3 linked regions of the Homo sapiens genome follow. The protein of the gene in region 2 interacts with the protein of the main gene of each other region in a biochemical or structural test. Each region holds a gene or a part of one and is shown on either strand. Other genes may lie near its edges.

Region 1 (7,021 bases), about 85 Mb from region 2:
GGAAGATGCCAAGGAGAGAACACAGTCCATTCAGCAGAGGGAGAGAGACATCGTCAAGCACCCTGCCGCAGCGCACTCTGGACTTAGCACAACAAAAACTGGGAGAGGTTTCTTGGTTTATTGCTGTGGTTTTCAAACTATGAGAACACCGGAGTCAAGCAATCATTCTCAAAACACCTCAACATGCATAGAATCACACTGCTTCAGACCTCTAGAATGCAGGAAGACAGCCAAAGAGTTTAGAAACGACTGACAGAGGCCGGGAGTGGTGGCTCATGCCTGTAATCCCAGCACTTTGGGAGACTGAGGCGGGTGGATCACCTGAGGTCAGGAGTTTGAGACCAGCCTAGCCAACATGGCAAAACCCCATCGCTACTGGAAATACAAAAATTAGCTAGGCACGGTGGTGTGTGCTTGTAGTCCCAGCTACTCAGGTGGCTGAGGCAGGAAAATTGCTTGAACCTGGGAGGCAGAGGTTGCAGTGAGCTGAGATCACGCCATTACACTCCAGCCTGGGAGACAGAGCAAGACTCCATCTCAAAAAAAAAAAAAAATGCCCAACAGATTTACAAAGGGACAGGCAGGCTCCTGTGATCCAGCATGAAGTCCAGGTTCTATCACCTGACAGCCTTAGGAAGTGACAAACCTCTGAGCTTGAACTTTTTTTTTCATTGCTTGAGACAGGGTCTGGCTCTGTCACCCAGGCCAGAGTCCAGTGGCGAGATCACAGCTCACTGCAGCCTCAACCTTGGGGTTCAAGCAATCTTCCCACCTCAGCATCCCAAGTAGCTGGGACTACAGGCGTGCACCACCATGCTCGGCTAATTTTTGTATTTTTTGTAGAGATGGAGTTTCGCCATGTTGCCCAGCTGCCTCAACTTAAATAAAAGCCCCTTGTCTAGCTCTCAAATATACATACTATGAAAATCAATGAATGCACATGAAAGGCTGTCACAGTTACTAGTATTAGTCATTCTTATCAAGGAATGACAGAACTTCCCTTAGTCTGGTGTAGGATGAAAGAGATTATAGAGCAGTGATTCTCAAACTTGAATGAGCATCAGAATCACCTGAGAATCTTGTTAAACTACAGATTACAGGGTCTACCCCAGAGTTTCTGATTCAGTAGGTCTGGAGTGGGGCTCAAGAATTTACATTTTTAACAAGCTGCCAGATGATCCCAATGATACTGATCTGAGGATCTAAAGTGTTCGGTAGGAGAAAGCAGCAGAAGAAAATGAGAGAGGGGTCCAAAGCTCTGGACTGGTTTTTGTTGATGCCCCTAAAAACCCAGAGAATTATCCTCCCAAGAACCAGGACACAGGAGGTCTGTCGAAAGATGCTTACCTCGCTGCTTACGGTGTGAATTTCCTGTGGTGTCTCAAGGACCTTTTCCTCCAGACAAGGAAACCTGCCTTCATAGTACATCTGCAGCAGCTGCAGAGCACGGCTGCCATAGCCCATCTAGGAGCAAACGTGAAGGGGAAGAGGCCGAGGGAAGAGAGCTGCTCTCAGTCTAAGCCACAGTGACTCCCCTGCATTGCTTCTAGAGAACCTTCCCTCCCTGTCAAACAGCACGGGGCAAGAGAACCAATGAAAACCCTGAGTGAGGTCAAAGCAGAGACACTTAAGACTGAAAGTAGTGTGACCCGAGTTCTTAACACTGGTCTAGCTCATCAAGAACAGCCACTTGAGGGTAAGGATGGCTGTGCTTTCTGGTCTCCAGATGGGCAAGCCCAAATGAGAGGCAGTTTCTGTACCATTGCCTGAAAAGGAAGTTTCTACAGCCAATTACTCAGTGAGGTGTTCTAAGAAGGTAATTTTGTTATGCAGGTCTGGTTCACAAGTCCTCGTTCTCACAAAGGAAGAGTGAGCATATGCCATCATCCTGTCCACCCACCCACCCCGAACCCTGGCTCAATTCTCCAGAGCAGGGAAGTGCCTACACTTCACTTGCTTCTGCTTGACCAGCTTCTTATTCCAGCCACCAAGTACCCCCACCCTAAAGCACCGCCAGCAACACGGCTTCAGGGGAGCCTGAGGACACATTACCCCTTGATAATCTGGGTGAACAGCAATGCGAACGACCCTTCCACCAGACAGACCACCAAAGTCTGGATCTTGGAACTGTGTGGGAGACACAAACCAGTAACTTAGCAACACAGACATCTTTGGACACCACCAGCTTCCCTCAGACACACCAGGGAAAGCCCGTCACCTGTTCTGACACTGTCCATGGAATCAGGTCCCCTGAAGCCTTCTTGCCTCGAGACAGACTGTTCAAGATGGACTGGCGAGAAATCTCCCCTTCAAGGCACACCTGTGGGGGAAGCAGGACAGTGCAGGCAGAAAGGCCAACTCTGATACAGAGCCCACTCACAGAATATAGCTTGTTTCTCGAACTAGGCCAGTTGTTTCCACCCCCATGTTCAGGTTTAACCCTGACACTGACACATCCATTCCCCCCGCTCTTTTGAGATGGAGTCTCACTCTGTCGCCCAGGCTGGAGTGCAGTGGTGCTATCTCGGCTCACTGCAAGCTCTGCCTCCTGGGTTCATGCCATTTTCCTGCCTCAGCCTCCCGAGTAGCTGGGACTACAGGTGCCTACCACCACACCCGGCTTATTTTTTGTATTTTTTTTTTTTTTTTTAGTAGAGAAGGGGTTTCACCGTGTTAGCCAGGATGGTCTTGATCTTCTGACCTTGTGATCCGCCCGCCTCGGCCTCCCAAAGTGCTGGGATTACAGGCGTGAGCCATGGCGCCTGGCCTGACACATCCATTCTTAACAGGAGCTTAATTACCAGGCCCCATGTTACAGGGCAGAAGACTGACAGCCTCCTGACCCAAAAAGTAAAAGCCACATTAGAAGAGAGTCTCTATGTATGCTGTGCGTGTGTGAAGGCCATCAAGACACAGGATGCTCATGAGGCTCTGTACAGAACAGCACAAGTTCAAAATAACTAAAATGTCTAACAGGTGAATGGTTGAACAAATCATGGTACATGTATATAATGAAATACTACACAGCTTTAAAACTTATGTAGATTATGAGTGTTTTATACACTGCCTAAAAATAAAAGCAGATTACTATGTATATGAAAAGGAAAAGTGATATAGAAATGCATAAATACATCCATGCTAGGCATTAAAAATTTGTTCCCCAATCTGTAGCCTCTAATTCAAAATGCACCATGTATTGCTTTTGTAATAAAGGGAGAAAACAAACAAGTCTGTTTGTGGAAGAAGCTGTGAGTCAAAATAAGAGAGCGGTCGGTTCTGGCTTTTCCCCGTCCGTCAACAGTGGAGCTTTGGGTGTCTAGTGGCGCTAACCTCTTCCAGTGCACCCTAGTCACCTGTCTCAGCAGACCCAGCCCCTTGGTTCCAGACCAGGACTCCACAGTTTCAAAACTCCCACAATGCAGTTATTAAGCCACTAATTCCTGATGCCTCAGTGGTTCCCCAAATCACTGCCACAAGGACGCCTCTGCTCCTATACCTGGATAACAGCAAGCACTTCTGGAAGGGCATTCTGGGTGGGGGGCACGGGAGGCAGAAGGCAGAAGAGATGGTGAGCAGGTGCATCGGAGAGCATCTGGAGATCATTGGGAGAGTTCTGTGGAAGCCAAACACGGGTCAGTGAGAAGCACTCTTCCTCTTGCCCTTTACGCAAAAGGTTCGATTCAGAACCACAGGATGACTGCAGTATGGCCTTCTCCAAAGCCAAGTGAGGAGCAGAAGTCCAGCAAAGCACCTTTCTAGTATTTTGGCAAGCCTGAGACTCTTCATAACAGGTTAAGTGGAACTTAGCCTCAAATGCCTACTGTCCTCTCACCCCGAGCACTGAGGCTGGACAGAAGAAGAGAATTTATTTAGCACTACTTATTTCACAGCTAGGAAGTGAACTTTTTACAGATAAGAGGCTGCTATTTCAGGAAAAACTGTCACCACTTCTAACACCAACTCTTCAAGCCTTCCATTAAAAGCTGTTCATAAAAATACTATCTAGACATTCAAAAAGTATCCTTTTTAACCAACCCTTTTGTTTTTAAGAGTCTCAGATATTCTAAACCCTCAAATTCACTGTTCCATAAAAGTAGCCCAGAGCTATAAAGCTGGTCTCAGGTCAAACTGCACCACCGGGCCACAACTGCAATGTCACCTCATCCTATCAGTTTAGTAGGCAGGCAAGAAATGAAAGCACTCCTTTAAAAATGGACACAGCTTTCCACCCTGTCCCGTTACTGCATGGAGCTACATGCTCTATACCTACACACAGCAAGATCAGTGGAACTCATCAATGTCCCAATGGAACAGTCACCTAAGCCATTGGGTAATAAAATATGCAAATCAAGTAAAAGGGGACTGCCAAATGCTGAAGCTCCCTGCTACCATTCACACAAGGGCTAGCTGCAGTTACCTTGTAGTGAGAAGCCACGTAGAGGGCCATAAGCCGTTGGAGGAAAACTTCAGAGGCCTTGTGGTAGCAAAAGAGGGTATCTCTATTAACATAGTACCTGGGTCTGGAGTTAAGAAACCAAAACAAAACAAATAGCCGAAGACAGGTCATACTACTCTCTGGAGGCAGAACAAATTTCCGTAGCTGGGAACAGGAGCTCAGTGTCCTAAGCAGAAACACATAAAAGAAGGAAGAAGAGGGCCAGGCGCGTTGGCTCACACCGGTAATCCCAGCACTTTGGGAGGCTGAGGCAGGCAGATCACAAGGTCAGGAGTTTGAGACCAGCCTGACCAACATGGTGAAACCCTGTCTCTACTAAAAATACAAAAATTAGCCAGACGTGGTGGCTGGCACCTGTAATCCCAGCTACTCAAGAGGCTGAGGCAGGAGAATCACTTGAACCCGGGAGGCAGAGGTTGCAGTGAGCTGAGATTGTGCCACTGCACTCTAGCCTGGTGACAGAGCGAGACTCCATCTCAAAAAAAAAAAAAAGAAAGAAAAAAAAAAAAGGAAGAGAAAAAGGAAATTGAAAATGTTCAACTTTCCCCTTTCTCTAGAGCAGCATCCTATGAAACAAAGGACTCAAGTCCTTTGAATTCTTTCACCGCCCCTCTCCTTTTCACAGGGCCAGTGAAACCCAGAGGAGGATACAGTTCACAAGCTTCAGGCAAGGGGCAGCCTGAGACTATCCGAGTGATGTTGAGGCAATCCAGGCACAGCAAGTCATTCAGCCACTTCTCCACTGCATCCCCAGGGGCGTATCGGATTGACTCCTGGAGGGAAACCTCATACAGTGTCCGCGCTGCTCCCCACAATCACACACACAAAAGAAGAAACAATGATTAAATATGTATTGTCTAAAAAAGCAAGGAAAAATGTTTCACTTTATATTTGTCCCATGGTGGCCAGAGACGTGTGGTAAGAATTTAAACTGGGTGGTTTAAAATTGTTTTTGGTGGATATTCAACTTGCCACGATACCAACCCCAAAGGGATCTCAATGCAACCATGCCCTGAGACAAGGACACACAAGGGCCCCACCATCAGAAGGCCCTAGTCTGGCTCCCATCTGGTCACTGGACTGCTGTTCCTCCGAAAAAAGCTACTTCTCCTCTTGGGGACTCAACCTCTCAGCCTGATGGTGGGAAGGTTTGGTGCTTCCCATGATGTCACAGGGGAAGCGAGGATCAGTAAGACTGAAGGGCCTTGCTGTGAACCGCGGGACCCGGGTCAGGTTCTGGGGTACCTGATGCCAATCTGGCTGTCGTCGTGGTCTTATTCTCAGCAGTGGTGCTGACCTGGCTCTGGGCGCTCTGTTGACGGAGCTGCTGAATTAGCTTGAGGGACAGTGACCGGCCAGTGCCCTCATAGCTAGAAACAAAGGCAAAAGGAATCAGGCACAAGGTCCCAAATCCACTGTCTAGGAGGGGACAGAGAGCTGCTTTCCTCCACCTGCTGAAACACCAGACCCCTGCTTCCCCCAGGACAGCCTTGCTCATCTCTGAACTTCCAGCATAGCAGGCACCTGTCCAAAGGAGGCAGGGTGGCACGGTGGCTGAGCTTGGGGCCACCCAGGCCTGGGCTCACGTCCTGGCTCATCTACTTAGTATCTTTGGGCAAGGAGCTGAATCTCTTTTCGCCTCATCTTCAAGAGGGGATTATTCTATACACCTCACAGGACTGTGATGTGAACTTAAAAAATAAGGACTGGAAAAAGGATGTAAGTAAAGCCTTTAGCATAAAGGCTTTAGGCAGTTTTAGTGAAGCTGGAACAAAGTTAAATGGTCAACTAACGGAGCTGCTTTTAGAAGTACGGTGCATAAGGAAATGAACTGAGAACATTTCCAGTTTGGAAAATAAAACAAATCCACCACCTCAGTAATTCTTTTCATTGCTATGCCCACTTATAAGGTGACATAAAATAGCTAAAAAATGTTGAGAAAAAAATTAAATCACCTATAATCTGATAACTCAATCAGCTTTCATTGTTGAGTTTTCTTCTCCTTGTCTTTAGTCACAGGCATATGTCACCACAGGGTACACACAGCACTTTTCATTACATCATTTCATAGTACTCATTATTATATTCAAAGACTGTAAAATACTTCCTCTTACTCAAATAATGATAAAAGCTAGATGTTTTATGCCCACTCTCCACACCACATAACAAAGCTCTCCCAAAAGTATCCTATTTATTTATTTAAGAAAAAAGAGTAAGCACAAGCAACAAAACTTCAAAACTTTTGTCGTTAAAAGACATTATTATAAAGAAAGTGGCCGGGCATGGTGGCTCATACCTATAATCCCAGCACTTTGGGAGGCCGAGGCGGGTAGATCACCTGAGGTCAGGAGTTTGAGACCAGCCTGACAAACATGGTGAAACCCCGTCTCCACTAAAAATACAAAAGTTAGCCAGGCATGGTGGTACACACCTGTAATCCCAGCTACTCAAGAGGCTGAGGCAGGAGAAATGGGTTGAACCTGGGAGGTGAAGGTTGCAGTGAGCCAAGATTACACCACTGCACTCCAGCCTTGGCGACAGAGTCAGAGTCTGTCTCAAAAAAAA
Region 2 (7,021 bases):
GAAACCATTTTTGAGTGTGAAGATTTAGACGATCCTCTCTTGAATTAGTTTACTTACTTTCTTTAAGAAATTCTTCATAGGATGGTCCTATTTCTTGGTTCCCAGCAATGTATTCTTCATCTTGGATCATCCAGGGAGGTGTGGCACCTGAAAAAAAAATTAAGGCTTTTTTTTTTTTTTTTAAGTCTTCAGGCTATTGTGAAACATGTCCTAGCTGTTAGCTTACCTCTCCTCATTAAGAGCTAGAAATGTCTAAAAGCAAAGCCCAGGAATTCTGGAGCTTTAGAAGGCCCTAGGCTAATTTAAAGCGACATACCCCATATGTGACAGTCATTTTAAAATGGCTTTGAGGCACAACTGACATAAACGATACACACTTAAATTTGGTGACTTTTGAGCGAAGCCATTACAATCTAGACCCCAAACATCCCCCTGTAAGTATCACTGCCCCCATTAAAATATTTTCATGTCCAGGCAATCGGTGATCTTTCAGTTGCTTTATTGGTTTGTATTTTTTAGGATTTTCTGTGTGTGGACATTGAGGTGGGGTCTGGCCTTTTGTTTTTTTGAGAGGAGTCTCGCTCTAGCCCAGGCTGGACACAATCTCAGCTCACTGCAACCTCCGCCTCCCAGGTCTCGGTTCAAACAATTCTGCCTCAGCCTCCCAAGTAGCTGGGATTACAGGCGTGCGCTGCGATGCCCAGCTAATTTTTGAATTTTTAGTAGAGATGGGGTTTCACCATGTTGGCCAAACTGGTCTTGAACTCCTGACCTCGTGATCCGCCTGCCTTGGCCTCCCAAAGTGTCGGGATTACAGGCATGAGCCACCACGCCGGCCAGGTCTGGACTTCTGAGATTCATCTGTGTCGTACGTATCAATAATTCTGTCTTCATCCTGGAATACTATTCCATTGTTAATCCATTTGCCTGTTGATAGACATCTGAATTGTTTCCAATTTGGAGCTGCTACAAGTGAAGCTGTTCTGAAGATTTGTGTACAAGTCTATGTAGACAGGCTTTCTTTTCTCTAGTTAGGGGTGGAACGGTTGGATAATGTGGTAGGTGTATCCCAAACTGTTTTCCAAAGTGACTGTACCAGTTTACATTCTAAGAGCAGTGTATGAAGGTTTGGTTTTTCTACACTGCCAAACACTTGGCATGATCAGTCTTTAATTTCTGCCATTCCAATACATATGTAGTGGTATTTCACTGTGGTTTTAATTTGCATTTCTCTAATGACTAATGTTGAACATTATTCATATGCTTTTATTGGGTTGTTTCCTTATCAAGTTGACAGTTCTTCATATATTCTGGATATAAGGCTTTTACCGATACATACGCTTTATCTTGGCCAACTTTATTTAAAAAAAAAAAAAAAGTCCGGGCACGGTGGCTCATGCCTGTAATCCCAGCACTTTGGGAGGCCGAGGCGGGTGGATCACGAGGTCAGGAGATCGAGACCATCCCGGCTAAAACGGTGAAACCCCGTCTCTACTGAAAATACAAAAAATTAGCTGGGCGTAGTGGCGGGCGCCTGTAGTCCCAGCTACTTGGGAGGCTGAGGCAGGAGAATGGCGTGAACCCGGGAGGCGGAGCTTGCAGTGAGCCGAGATCCCGCCACTGCACTCCAGCCTGGGCGACAGAGCGAGACTCCGTCTCAAAAAAAAAAAAAAAAAAATTAGCTGGGTGTGGTGGTGCACACCTGTAACCCCAGCTACTTGGGAGGCTGAGGCAGAAGAATCACTTGAACCTGAGAGGCAGAGGTTGCAGCGAGCTGAGATTGCGCCACTGCACTCCAGCCTGGCGACAGAACAAGACTCCATCTCAAAAAAAAAAAAAAATCTCCCAGGGTTTTAAAAACACTGCCCTGGACCTTACCTGAGTGGATGTTACCAACTCCTGGTATATCCTGTAGTTGGAAATGGGAAAAAAAGTGCTAGTTAAAGTCTAGGCATGATTAAAAAAAAAAATCCTAGAAACGATAGACAAAGCACACTTTAAAAGAGGTGGGTGTGACTGCTGCCACAATGCTAATTCTGCACCCCAGCTGATGTTAAACTTTGAAAGCACAGTAAGTCACTCTAAGACAACCCTGTCCTCAGGAAGCTCACAGTCATAACAGTGGAGATGTCTGTAAGTAGAGTGGCTATTACATGCCAGGGGAGCAAAACCTTGCCCTCACAGCATACATATAATTGGGGAAGAGCATTAAGCACAAGTTACGTAAATTACATTTGCAACTTTACATGGTGCTACATCCACTTGAAATAGAGATAACCTGTTCAGATAAGCCTTTTATGAAAAAGTGACATTTGAGCTAACAGTTGAAGGTAAACTAGGTGATGAGGGAAGGAAAGCAGGTTTTAGACAATGGCAACTGCAAAAGCCCGAAGCAACACAATACAGCTGAAGTGTAGAGTAAAATCATAAGTGGTACAATGATTTTCTGTTTGTGAGGCAGGATTGAAGGGGGAGTAGAAATTGCCCAAAGGCTGAATGGAGGCAGACAGGTTAAAATTGACCGCTTGTTGACAGGATATGGGAGATGGAAAAGGAAAGGATCTGCATCTAGTGATTGGAAATATAGGAGTGGTGGGGGTTAGTTTCAGATGCCTGTGGGATATTTAATGTCCTGTGTTGAGTTGGAACTATGAGTTCTACAGAGGGCAAGATTTAGGAGTTGGCACTCCTAAGTGTCAATACATGTGAATAGGATCGCTTTGGAGGGTGAGAAGAGGTCTGAGAACACTACTAGGGAACAGTGAAGGAAGAAGGAAAAGCCTGCAGTGGAGGCAGCAGTGGCTTGAATAGGTAGAAAATCAGGAGAAAGGGGTCCTGAGACCTGAGGGACCATTGGCCCTCTTCTGGCTTGCTTATCCTTTGTACCTGATGGCCAATGAATGTCAGAGATGGTCCTGTCTCCATCCAGTCAAGCTCTGGAGCTGGTGGCAGGTCCAAATTTGAGGGCTGCTGTAAGCTGGAAGCTACTTGGCTGAAAAACATGAGCCAGGCTGCCAGATGAGGTCCTTGAGCCATGAGGGTGGTAAAGATTAGATCTGTTTCCATTTCCCAGGCAAAAGGTTGCAGAATGTTCTAAGATGTCAAATTCCCAACAAGAGATTCCCTAATAGTCTTACCTGTTCATCCCTTTCCAGCTTCTAGGTGCTGAAGAGCCCTCTTCTGGGTCTGGCACTGCCTGAGGCTGAGTTTGATTCAGGAAAAATAAATGTGTCTGGGATGCTTAAGAGCCTGCCTAGGCCATGCCTCCACCCTCCAGACCCCAGTATCACAGGAAGGAAACAAATTAGCATATGGAAGGTACTGCCCATCTTTTACAGACTCTTCCCTCCCTCCCTCCCAGTCCTGTCCACATATTCACTGACTAGGCCTGCCCCCTGGCACACAGGTAAGGGAATTCAAGCCAAGCAGATGAGAATGCAGTCAGAGTTCTCTTAGAAGCACTGGTTCATGGCCGGGCACAGTGGCTCATGCTTGTAATTCCAGCAGGCTGAGGCGGGTGGATCACCTGAGGTCAGGAGTTCAAGACCAGCCTGGCCAACATGGTGAAACACCACCTCTATTAAAAATATAAAAATTAGCCAGGCGTGGTGGCGGCACCTGTAATCCCAGCTACTCGGGAGCCTGAGGCAGGAGAATCGCTTGAACCTGAACCTGGGAGGTGGAGGTTGCAGTGAGCCGAGATCGTGCCACTGCACTCCAGCCTGGGTGACACAGCGAAACTCTGTCTCCAAAAAAAAAAGAAGAAGAAGAAGCACTAGTCCATGAAATGCTGGACCTGGGAATGCCAGGGATCAGTGGATTTGGATACTGGTCTGGATCCTCCGAGGGAAACCAACCTCTAAGACAGACCGAACCACCTCCTGTCGGCTCTGCTCCACCTCACGGATCTGAGCTGCCATCTGTGGGAGAGAGGCTGCTTAGACAGGTACAGGATCATGGGGGCCAGTTTCTTCAGAGGCCTTTCCTTTAACTTGGGCCCTCCACCCCCAGGCGTGGACCAGTACTGGTCTGTGGCCTGTCAGGAAGCAGGCTGCAACAGCACTGCCGCCTGAGCTCCTGTCAGATCAGTGGTGGTGTTACATTCTCATAGGAGCACAAACACTATTGTGAACTGGGCATGCAAGGTATCTAGGTTGCGTGCTCCTTATGAGAATCTAGTGCCTGATGATCTGAGGTGGAGCAGTCTCATTCTGAAACCATCCCCTGCCTGGGTCCATCTGTGGAAAAACCGTCTTCCACGAAACCAGCCCCTGGTGCAAAAAGGGTGAGGGACTGCTACTTTAACTTACCTCCTTGATCACTTTATCCTCCTTTTCTTCATAGGAATCCAAACCTTTCACCATGGATTTCTTGAATCTAAAAAGAAAAGGGGCAAAACCACCCAGAACCCATTCCCCACCAGTTAAAACGAAAAGCTCCTCAGTAGATATTTTTTTAATTTTGAGAAATTCCAAATTCAGAAACAAAACAGTATAGTAAGCACCTATGTACCTCTCACCCAGAGTCCTTGTAAACATTTTGCCATACTGGCTCCACTTCTTTTGTACAGACACACGTCCTTTTTGCCAAAACAAAATAGGTTTAGACGTCAAACCCTATTTTCAACACACATCTCCCAAGAGGAGGAACATTCTATACAACCATGATACCATTACCACATTAAGAAAATTCTTCCTTTTAGTGTTCAAATATTTGGCTGGTTAGTATAGACATGGTTTACATGTCTTCAGACTTGAGTGTAGGCATACAGGCTATATTCACATTTCCCTCGTCTCAAAAACGTGCATTATGCCTTCTCTACTCTCACCTCCAATCCCAAAGTCCAACAAAAGATCACATGGAATCCAGCTATTAGGTCTCTAGTCTTCCCCTAGTCTGGAACAGTCTTACTGTTTCCATTACTTCACATCCTCAGAAGAATCCAGGCCAAATCTTGCATACTGTCCTAAATTTCTTTGTCTTTTTTTTGAGACGGGCTCGCTCTGTTGCCTAGGCTGGAGTGCAGTGGCACAACCTCAGCTCGCTGCAACCTCTGCTCAAGAGGCTCCCAGGCTCAAGAGATCCTCCTGCCTTAGCTTCCTGAGTAGGTAGGACTACAGGACAGCACCACTATGCCTGGCTAATTTTTGTGTTTTTTGTAGAAACAGGGTTTTGCCATGTCACCCATGCTGGTCTCGAACTCCTGGGCTCAAGCAATTCTCCTGCCTTGGCCTCCCAAAGAACTGGGATTACAGGCATCAGCCACTATGCCTGGCCTTAAATCAGTAATTTGTACTGTCACCTCCCTATTCAAATGCCTCCATTCCTTACTTGTATCTTCCTTTTGCCATAGTGAAAACCCTGGTTCTCAAAACCCTGGTTCTCAACACAAAGTTTCAGTATAATACCAATACCACTATCAACAGTGTTCCCTGAGAGCCTTGAATATATCCAAGGAGACAATGGCTTGAGCCACACCTTACCGAATTGTGGCTGAAAGGCTTGTTTAATCCTCCTGGAACACGAGGGTGGAAGGTCTGCCAGAAGCTGCTATGAGGCCATCTCCCACTTCCCTCCCCATCTCCCCTAGGAGGTTGTCATCAAATGGTTTCTCATCAACTCCCAGGTTCTGATGAGGTATGGGGCTTTCTGTTCCACCCCTCTCAGATTAAAATTGCAGAATATTAAGCCACTTAGTTTTAAAAAATCATTTAAGCCAGGCGCGGTGTGGCCCACGCCTGTAATCCCAGCACTTTGGGAGGCCGAGACGGGTGGATCAAGAGGCCAGGAGTTCAAGACCAGCCTGGCCAACATAGTGAAACCCTGTCTCTACAAAAACACAAAAAATTAGCCAGATGTGGTGGCAGGTGCCTGTAATCCCAGCTACTTGGGAGGCTGAGACGAGAATTGCTTGAACCTCGGAGGTGGAGGTTGCAGTGAGCCGAGATCGGGCCACTGCACTCCAGGCCAGTGACAGAGCAAGACTCTGTCTCAAAAATAATAATAAGTTGTAGGGAAAAGAAAGAAAGATCAGACTGTCACTGTGTCTATGTAGGAAGGAAAGACATAAGAGACTCCATTTTGAAAAAGACCTGTACTTTAAACAGTTGCTTTGCTGAGATGTTGTTGATTTGTAGCTTTGTCCCAGCCACTTTGACCCAGCCACTTTGACCCAACTTGGAGCTCACAAAAACATGTGTTGTATAAAATCAAGGTTTAAGGGACCTAGGGCTGTGTAGGACGTGCCTTGTTAACAAAATACTTACAAGCAGTACATCTGGTAAAGGTCATTGCCATTCTCTAGTCTCAATAAACCAGGGGCACAATGCACTGTGGAAAGCCGCAGGGACCTCTGCCCTTGAAAGCGGGGTATTGTCCAAGGTTTCTCTCCATGTGATAGTCTGAAATATGGCCTCGTGGGATGAGAAAGACCTGACTGTCTCCCAGCCCGACACCTGTAAAGGGTCTGTGCTGAGGTGGATTAGTAAAAGAGGAAAGCCTCTTGCAGGTGAGATGGAGGAAGGCCACTATCTCCTGCTTGCCCCTGGGAACTGAATGTCTCGGCTTAAAACCCGATTGTACATTTGTTCAACTCTGAGATGGGAGAAAAGCTGCCCTGTGGCGGGAGGCGAGACATGTTTACAGTGATACTGCCTTGTAGTCTTTACTCCACTGAGATGTTTGGGTGGAGAGAAACATAAGTCTGGCCTACGTGCACGTCCAGGCATAGTACTTTCCCTTGAACTTAATCGTGATATACATTCTTTTGCTCACATGTAATTTGTTGACCTTCTCCTTATTATCACCCTGCTGTCCTACTACATTCCTTTTTGCTGAAATAATGAAAAATAATAATCAATAAAAACTGAGGGAACTCAGAGGCCGGTGCCGGTGCAGGTCCTTGGTGTGCTGAGCACCAGTCCCCTGGACCCACCGTTGTTTCTTTATACTTTGTCTCTGTGTCTTATTTCTTTTCTCCGTCTCTCATCCCACCCGACTAGAAATACCCACAGGTGTGGAG
Region 3 (7,786 bases), on a different chromosome or scaffold from region 2:
CTTAGAAGCAAAGGCACTGATTATCTTTTTTCCCAGACTACCTTTTCAAGGGAGCTTGTATACCAAGCACCCTTGGAAGACAGAAATGGTGTCACCTCCTGGATCGCATGGCAGCCCTTATTGTACAGTGTAATAAATAAATGTCTACTTATGGAACAAAAGTCAGGCAGGTTTGCCTACTACCCAATTTAAAAATATTTGTATTTCCTGGCTGGATTTGGTGGCTCACGCCTATAATCCTAGCACTTTGGGAGGCTGAGGCAGGAGTACTGCTTGACACCAGCAGTTCGAGACCAGCCTGGGCAACACAGCGAGAACCCCGTCTCTATAAAAAAATAAAAAAATAAGCCAGGTGTGGTGTCGTTTGCCTACAGTCCCAGCTAGTCATGAGGCTGAGGTGAGAGGATTGCTTGAGTCCAGGAGTTCAAGGCTGCAGTGAGCTACGATCACGCCACTGCACTCCAGCCTGAGTGACAGAGTGAGACCCTATCTCTTTAAAAAAAAATTATATTTCCTGAGCTTGGGTTCCTCAGCTATGAAACAAGTACATTCCATGTGCAGCATCTACCAAGGCATTACATACCACATTTCACCATTCAATTTTACTGATCAAACACTTACAGGTTTTGGTTTCTCTCTTGAGTTACATTTTTTCAAATGCTTTGCTAGTTGATCTTCATATACTGTGCTAAATTTAAAGAGAAAATTATTTCAAATGAGACTTGTGCCAATTACTGTTTCCAGCACAAAAAAAAACCCGTATCTGATCCACACTTACTGTTTTGGATCTAAAGGACACAGGATTCTTTTCCGAGCATCTTCTTCCTAATAAATTAAGAGATACATTTATTTAAATAAAATATCAAGTTTATTGCTTACAGATACCAGATATAACTTCAGTGTCTCTGTAATCTCAAAACAAGGTAAGGAAACCTTACAAGGACATAATGAAAAGTTGGCAAAATCAGGTCCCAAGGGTTTAACAAAAACTCTCCAGTGTACTGGCTTAAATACATATGAACAAATACTGCTTTGGACAAACAAGGGTCTATAGCTTCAAACAGGGTATAGAGAAGGCCTACATATGGTGTCTGAAATCTAAGATAGCATCAACTATTATATGTATGACTATTTTATGCACAACCAAGAAAGAAAAAAATGCTGCCTATTTCATGTTAATTGACAAATAGTTGTATATATTTATCACATATTAGGTTTGTACAAAAGTAATTGTGATTTTTATGGCAATAAAAATAATATACACTATTATTTATGTATGGTTTTAATACAACATAATGTTTTCAAATATGTATACATTGTGGAATGGCTAAATCAAGCTAATTAACATGTATTGCCTCACATACTAATCATTTTTTGGAAAATGCTGCCCATTGACATATGGATTTTAAGATGTATCCTGATTTTAGAATGTTAAAATGTAAAAATAAAGTTTCTTAGAAACAATGGAACATGGCATTTTAACCATTTGGATGTGCCATATTTTACTGGCTTTGCAACTTTTTACTATCAGTTACATCCTACTCATTCCTAAGTTACATCACTTAATGACTGGGAATACATTCTGAGAAATATATCTTTAGGTGATTTTGTCATTGGGAGAACATCATACAGTATAGTAACACAAACCTAGATAGTATAGCCTACTGTACATCTAGCCTATATAGTATAGCCTATTGCTACTAGGCTGTAAACCTGTACAGCATGTTACCATACTAAATACTGTAGGCAATTGTAACACAATGTAAGTATTTGTGTATCTAAACATATCTAAACATAGAAAAGGTACAGTAAAAATACAGTATTATAACCTTATGGGACCACCATCATATATGCGGTCTGTTGTTGACTGAAATGTCATTATGTGGCACATGACTATATGAACTGGGAAAAAAGAAAGGAAAATTGATAATGTTGGCAATTCTACCCAATATTCCACATGAATCTGTATAAATAGGGGTCATATAACAGTTAAGAACACAGGCCAGCCAGACTGCCTAGGTATGATACCCAGCTCTACCTACCAGCTACGATCCCTATGACCTTAGTTAGGTAGGCTTACTGCCTCATCTGAAAGATGAGAACAAAAATATGTCTTACCTTCTAAGGTTTGAACACATTAAGTGAGCTAATAGTTAACAAAACAAAACTGCCTAGCCCAGTGCTGTACATAGAGTAAGTGGTGACTAAGTGTCTGCTATTATTATTCTTTTAAAAATTTATTTCTGTTCGAATGTGCCTCTCAGCATGTCCATGAAGCTATTCACACTGAATTTCATGGGAAAGCTAAGAAATTTTTTTTTTGAAAATACTATATATTCAATAGAAGAAAAAGAAAATACTGTATATAATTTCTTCCTTATTGCTGACTTTAAATCCTAACCTCCATGTAAAAGACTATTCTAACCCCCAGAGCCTAACTGTAGCATAGGAAAAAAAAAGCACATTTAAAATTTATTAGTTGAATTTAGAAACAGGAATTCTCAATCTTGGCACTATTGACGTTTTGGGCAGGTAATTCTTTTGAGGGGGTGAGTGCAGGGGGCTGTCCTGTGATTTGTAGGAGGTTTAGCAGCATTTCTGGTCTCTATCCATTAGATGTCAGTGATACTCCTCAGTTTGACAACCAAAATGTCTTCATTTTGCCAAGTGTTCACTGGAGGCAAAATCAGTCCCAGTCGAGAACCACTGGGTAAAAATGAGTGGTGTCATCACAGCTATATATGACACTTAGAAAAAAAGATGGAAACACAACATCCAGTTACATCATAAATTACAGATTCAGGAGGATAGCCACAATTTAAAACGAGATAGTAGTCAATAAAAGTGTTTCCACTTGATGTTTTGCGGTCTCTCTTCAAGTGTCTAATGACAATATGTCGTTCCTCTATAGGAATACTAATCAGCTTGTAAGGATTTATTCATATTCTACTATCATCACTATTTGTTTTCACCTTCCATATATCTGGATAAGGTGGAGTCTAAATCCTTCTCCTATCATAACTCTCATTCTTCAACAAGGGATGTTTGCCAGTCCCCTCAAAACCAGTCAATAGACTATGGGCATAATTCAGAGTTCCCACAACAAATCACGTCTCCCATATTCCAAAACAAGAATGTCCTTGTTTCAGTATGCTTCACTTTTGGTAAATGCCAGTCAAAACAAAATAGGAAGTAGACTACAACTATGATGGAGAGTGGCAGATGAAGGGGGTCAGGGGACTGATCTGCACTGGATATTGTCTAGAAGAATAAATTCCTTAAGAAATAAAATAATGCAAATAATACTGAACATTCAGAAGCATGAAATCTGATGCTGATCGCTTTGGTTTATTCTTTATAGTTCTGTGGAACTATAAGGACATGCTCTCTTCCTATGAGCATTTTGCTCCTCTGGTTTTTATTTTCCCATCTCATATATATCCTAAAGTAATATACATATATACAAATATAAAGTGTTTGATAGTACATTTATATGCATAATTATCAAACAAAATTGTATGCTTTGTTCTCAATTGTAAAAGGTCAATTCGTATATATTTAAAAATCTTTCCTTCCCATTCCAGCAAAGTTGCATTCTTAAAAACTGTAAGTCGAAAAAAATTTTTTTTTCTTTTTTGAGATTCAGTCTGGCTGTCACCCAGGCTGGAATGCAGTGGTGTGATCTTGGATTATTGCCACCTCCACCTCCTGGGTTCAAGCGATTCTCCTGCCTCAGCCTCCCGAGTAGCTGGGGTTACAGGCTCGCACCACCACGATTTTCTTAATTTTAGTAGCTCGCGCCACGGCTGATTTTCTTATTTTTAGTAGAGAGAGGGTTTCATCATGTTGGCCAGGCTGGTCTCGAGCTCCTGACCTCAAGTGATCCGCCCGCCTCGGCCTCCCAAAGTGCTGGGATTACAGGCGTGAGCCACCGCGCCGGGCCTCAAGTCTAAATTTTTAAAAGAAAGTTTCTTCCAACCGCATTCACGAGAAGTGCTTCTCTTTCATGAAATAACAATTAGAACACAACTAGTGAAACCTTTGGGACTTCAATCACTACTTTTTCTAAACTACCACTTTCCAGCAGGAAGACGGAGCGGTAGCTTGGGGTAAAAATTAAAACCTAGCATTACCATGAGTTAAGATCGAGATAAATAGATCAAAATAAATGGGTCACTGCTGGCGCTTTACTTAGAAAAATAAAAAATTTCTCATCACTAGAACTCATAATCGCTCCGCAAGGAGGGCAAAACTGGGTTTATTAAAGTGAAAGCTGGAGAATCCAGGGGACACAAGCAGAAAGCTGTCAAAGAGGGGAGGGGCCGGGTTCCAGCACCGACAGGACCAGGATACTTATTTCCGACTCTTGAGAGAGTAGGGCGATACCACACCTCCGCGGCTCCAGCGTGTTCACCACAAAATCTTTTCCCTGCGGCCACCACCATCCTGCAGAACCGTTTCTTCTTTTCCACATAGTAACCGCATCTACCCTCAGCTGGAAAACCAGGCGCGTGCGGCGACGTCGCGGAGGTCGCCATAATTCTAGGGCTCGCTTCCGGTGTCCAGCATCCGGCAACCAGAAGAAAAGTTAGAAGCTTCCTTCGGGTCTCCTTCCCTTAACAAACATGGCTGCCTCAGCCCCCGCGCCACACAGGTTAATACCCGGAACTACCACAACCGTCTTCCCTTTATCCTCCGCAGAACCGGAAGAATCCGATGGTGGCTGGCGAGGGCCAAGTCTCTTACGCCTTCCCCTCGTTTCTCCCTCCCCGCCTCCTCCGCAGAAGCCGAGCGCCAAACTCAAACTTTATCAGGACCCGGACCTCTCAGGCTAATCCCGAGGGCCGGGCCTGTTGGGCTTTTCTGCACACCAGCCGAGGCAGCGAGCCAACATGAGCCAAGTGCTGTTCCACCAACTAGTCCCGTTGCAGGTGAAATGCAAAGACTGTGAGGAGAGGTAAGGTCCGCGTCATCCAGTGCCCGCGGGTGGCGGTTGGGGTCAGGCCAATGGGGAAAGATGGCGGTTCTGGCCCGTGGGATCCACCTTGCACCTAGGTGTCGAGTCGGCCCCCCTAGGAAGCGGATAGGGAACCCAGAGGGCCCGGTGGTTACCTCTCTCACCAAGTCGGCCGTTGCAGAGGGGACTGGAGGAAGGGTGTGAGGAGTTAGGAAGCCGGCTCACATCAAGTTAATGTCAAAAACCCTACCTGTGCACGGAATCGTGAAGATTATAGCCCTACTCTTCCCTTTTGACAGATAAGAACTCTGGCCCAGAGAAGTTAAAAAAATTTACGTGAGGGCTCACAGCCAGTTCATGGCAGGGTCAGGACTAGAACTCAGGCCTTGGCTCCGAGCCTTTCCCCCTCGTTCTCTTTTGAAGTATGTTGGCAGTAAAGTTCAACTTTTAAAAACCTACCAATTTGGTGGCGTACTTTGGCTCTTCACATCAGTTGCTTTAAAAAAGTAAATTACATTTAACCGACTAAAAATGAGAAAAGCAGAAACGTCATTAATTCATTCAATAAATATTGCCTCCTTGTAAAACACCTTACTGGGCACTGGGAATACAGTGGTCAGGAAAAACAGTCCTTTTCTTCATGGAGTTTACAATCACTGGAGGAAATAAAGACCAGTCGCACAGAGAAGTGCAACTTTGATTAAGGAGGTGGTATTATTGGGGCGTAAATAGATTTGACCAGAGGTCAGGAGACTTACTTTTTTTTTCTCAGTTCTAACACTCAATGGTTGTCTCTTTTTTTCTCTGAACGTTCTTTCCTCATTTGTAAAACTGATATAACATGCGTATTCACGTGTTTGTAATGAGGATCAGGTGTGAAATCTTTTGCGTATTCACGTGTTTGTAATGAGGATCAGGTGTGAAATCGTATGTGAAAACTAAGTGGTGTACAAATGTAACATAAAAAATGAAGACATTGCCTTATTGAGTTGCCAGTAATGTCAAACTGTAGTATATATAGTTCAGAATTCGGTCAAAAATCAATGGCAAGCCGGTCAAGGAGATGGTCCCAAAACCAGCAGCTGCATATGGAGATCTGTAGGTTTAGTTGATCATTCTTTTAATGCTGTCCAGTATGGTAGCCACTAGCCACATGTGGTTATTAGACATTTGAAATGGGGCTTATCTGAATTGTTGTGCTTTACATATGAAAATGCACGTTGGATTTTTAAGACTTACTATGAAAAAAGAATGTAAAATATGTCAATTTTTATATTATGTGTTAAATGGCAATATTTTTGGGTATATTGGGTTAAATACAATGTATTATTAAAATTAATTTCACCTGCTTTTAAAAGTCTTTTTAAAATGTGACTTCTAGAAAATTTAAAAGTAGGCTAGGTATGGTGGCTCACACCCGTAGTCCCAGCACTTTAGGAGGCCAAGACAGGAGGATTGCTTGAGCCTAAGCTTGAGGTTACAGTGAGCTACTATTTGTGCCACTGTACTCCAGCCTGGGTGATAGAGCGAGATCCTGTCTCTGAAAAAAAAAAAAGAAAAAGAAAAAAATTAAAATTACATACCTGGCTCACATTTGTGGCTTACATTGTATCTCCATTGGACAACACTGTTTTAGAATGATTATAGAAAGATAAAGGAGGCCATGACTTTGGTTTCAATATGGAAACTCCTAGATGGTCTCTTTCTGGTTACATTGCCATCACAGTTAATCTAAAAACTCAATTTCTCTGCTTAGAAACCTTTAATATATTCCTATTATCTGTATAATAGGGGTCAGCAAACTGGAGCACATGGGCCAGTTGGCTCACTGTTTTCGTAAATAAACTTTTCTTGGAATACAGCCATGCTCATTTGTTTACATATTGTAGCTGCTTTTGCACAGGAAGGGCAGAGATGAGTAATTGTGACAGAGACCTTATGGCCCGCAAAGCCTAAAATATTTGCTATCTGGCCCTTTACAGAATAATTTGGTGATCCTTGACCTATAGGAAGAACAACCCAGACTCTCTCTCTTTCTCTCTCTCTTTTTTTTTTTTTTTCTAGACAGAGTCTCGCTCTGTTGCCCAGACTGGAGTATTGTAGCACGATTACAGCTCACTGCAGCCTTGACCTCCTGGGCCCAAGGGTTCCCCTCACCTTAGCCTCCTGAGTAGCTGCAATTACAGGCGCATACCACCACGCCTGGCTTTTTTTTGTTGTTAATTTAATTTAAAAGAGACGGGGTCTCCCTGTATTGCCCAGGCTGGTCTTGAACACCTGGGCTCAAGTGATCCTCTCACCCCAGCCTCCCAAAATTCGGGGATTATAGGCGTGAGCCACCACGCCCAGCCCAGACGCCTTGGTTGAGTATTTGAGGCCAGTTCAGCTCAACAAATACTGGCAAATGTCTGCTGTGTCTCAGGAACTGTCCTAAGTGTGGAGGATGTAAATACGCACCCCCCTCTCCGTCCCCAACAACAACAAAAGCCAACAAAAACCTCTTTTCATTCTGTCCCTCAAGGAACTCACATTTTAATAGGGGAAATAAGATTTTCCTTGAACAGGCACCATAGCACAGATTAGGAGTTCAGGCTCTGGAGCCAGATTGCCTGGGTTTAAGTCCCAGTTCTTCCACTTACTGACAGATCTTGTACAATTTCCTTCTCTGTGTCTCATCTTTAAGTTGATGGTAATAACAGTACCTACTTCATGGTATTATGAGAATGGAATGAATTATACATATGAACTGCTTACAACAGTGACTAGAGCATAATAAATGTTCACTAAATTTTAGGTATTAATGTGTGACAAATGCATAAAGTAATATAA

Evidence for each region.
Region 1: the proteins of CENATAC (region 2) and NAT10 form a complex in vitro, tested with the Homo sapiens proteins (one study listed by BioGRID).
Region 3: the proteins of CENATAC (region 2) and SASS6 form a complex in vitro, tested with the Homo sapiens proteins (one study listed by BioGRID).

What each region holds. Positions count from the first base shown.
Region 1 is NC_000011.10:34,129,618-34,136,638, reverse strand, and holds part of NAT10 (RNA cytidine acetyltransferase), read right to left. Parts: intron 5,827-7,021; coding exon 5,702-5,826; intron 5,259-5,701; coding exon 5,108-5,258; intron 4,515-5,107; coding exon 4,418-4,514; intron 3,614-4,417; coding exon 3,497-3,613; intron 2,321-3,496; coding exon 2,219-2,320; intron 2,128-2,218; coding exon 2,053-2,127; intron 1,465-2,052; coding exon 1,348-1,464; intron 1-1,347. UniProt on the Homo sapiens protein: RNA cytidine acetyltransferase that catalyzes the formation of N(4)-acetylcytidine (ac4C) modification on mRNAs, 18S rRNA and tRNAs.
Region 2 is NC_000011.10:119,008,120-119,015,140, reverse strand, and holds part of CENATAC (centrosomal AT-AC splicing factor), read right to left. Parts: intron 4,378-7,021; coding exon 4,311-4,377; intron 3,921-4,310; coding exon 3,858-3,920; exon of another isoform or gene 3,830-3,857; intron 3,203-3,829; coding exon 3,138-3,202; intron 2,993-3,137; coding exon 2,887-2,992; intron 1,910-2,886; coding exon 1,879-1,909; intron 148-1,878; coding exon 58-147; intron 1-57. UniProt on the Homo sapiens protein: Component of the minor spliceosome that promotes splicing of a specific, rare minor intron subtype. Negative regulator of centrosome duplication.
Region 3 is NC_000001.11:100,129,921-100,137,706, reverse strand, and holds the start of SASS6 (spindle assembly abnormal protein 6 homolog), read left to right. Parts: upstream 1-4,776; 5' UTR 4,777-4,892; coding exon 4,893-4,957; intron 4,958-7,786. Other genes in the region: TRMT13 (tRNA:m(4)X modification enzyme TRM13 homolog), read right to left, coding at 622-688, 779-825, 4,392-4,538.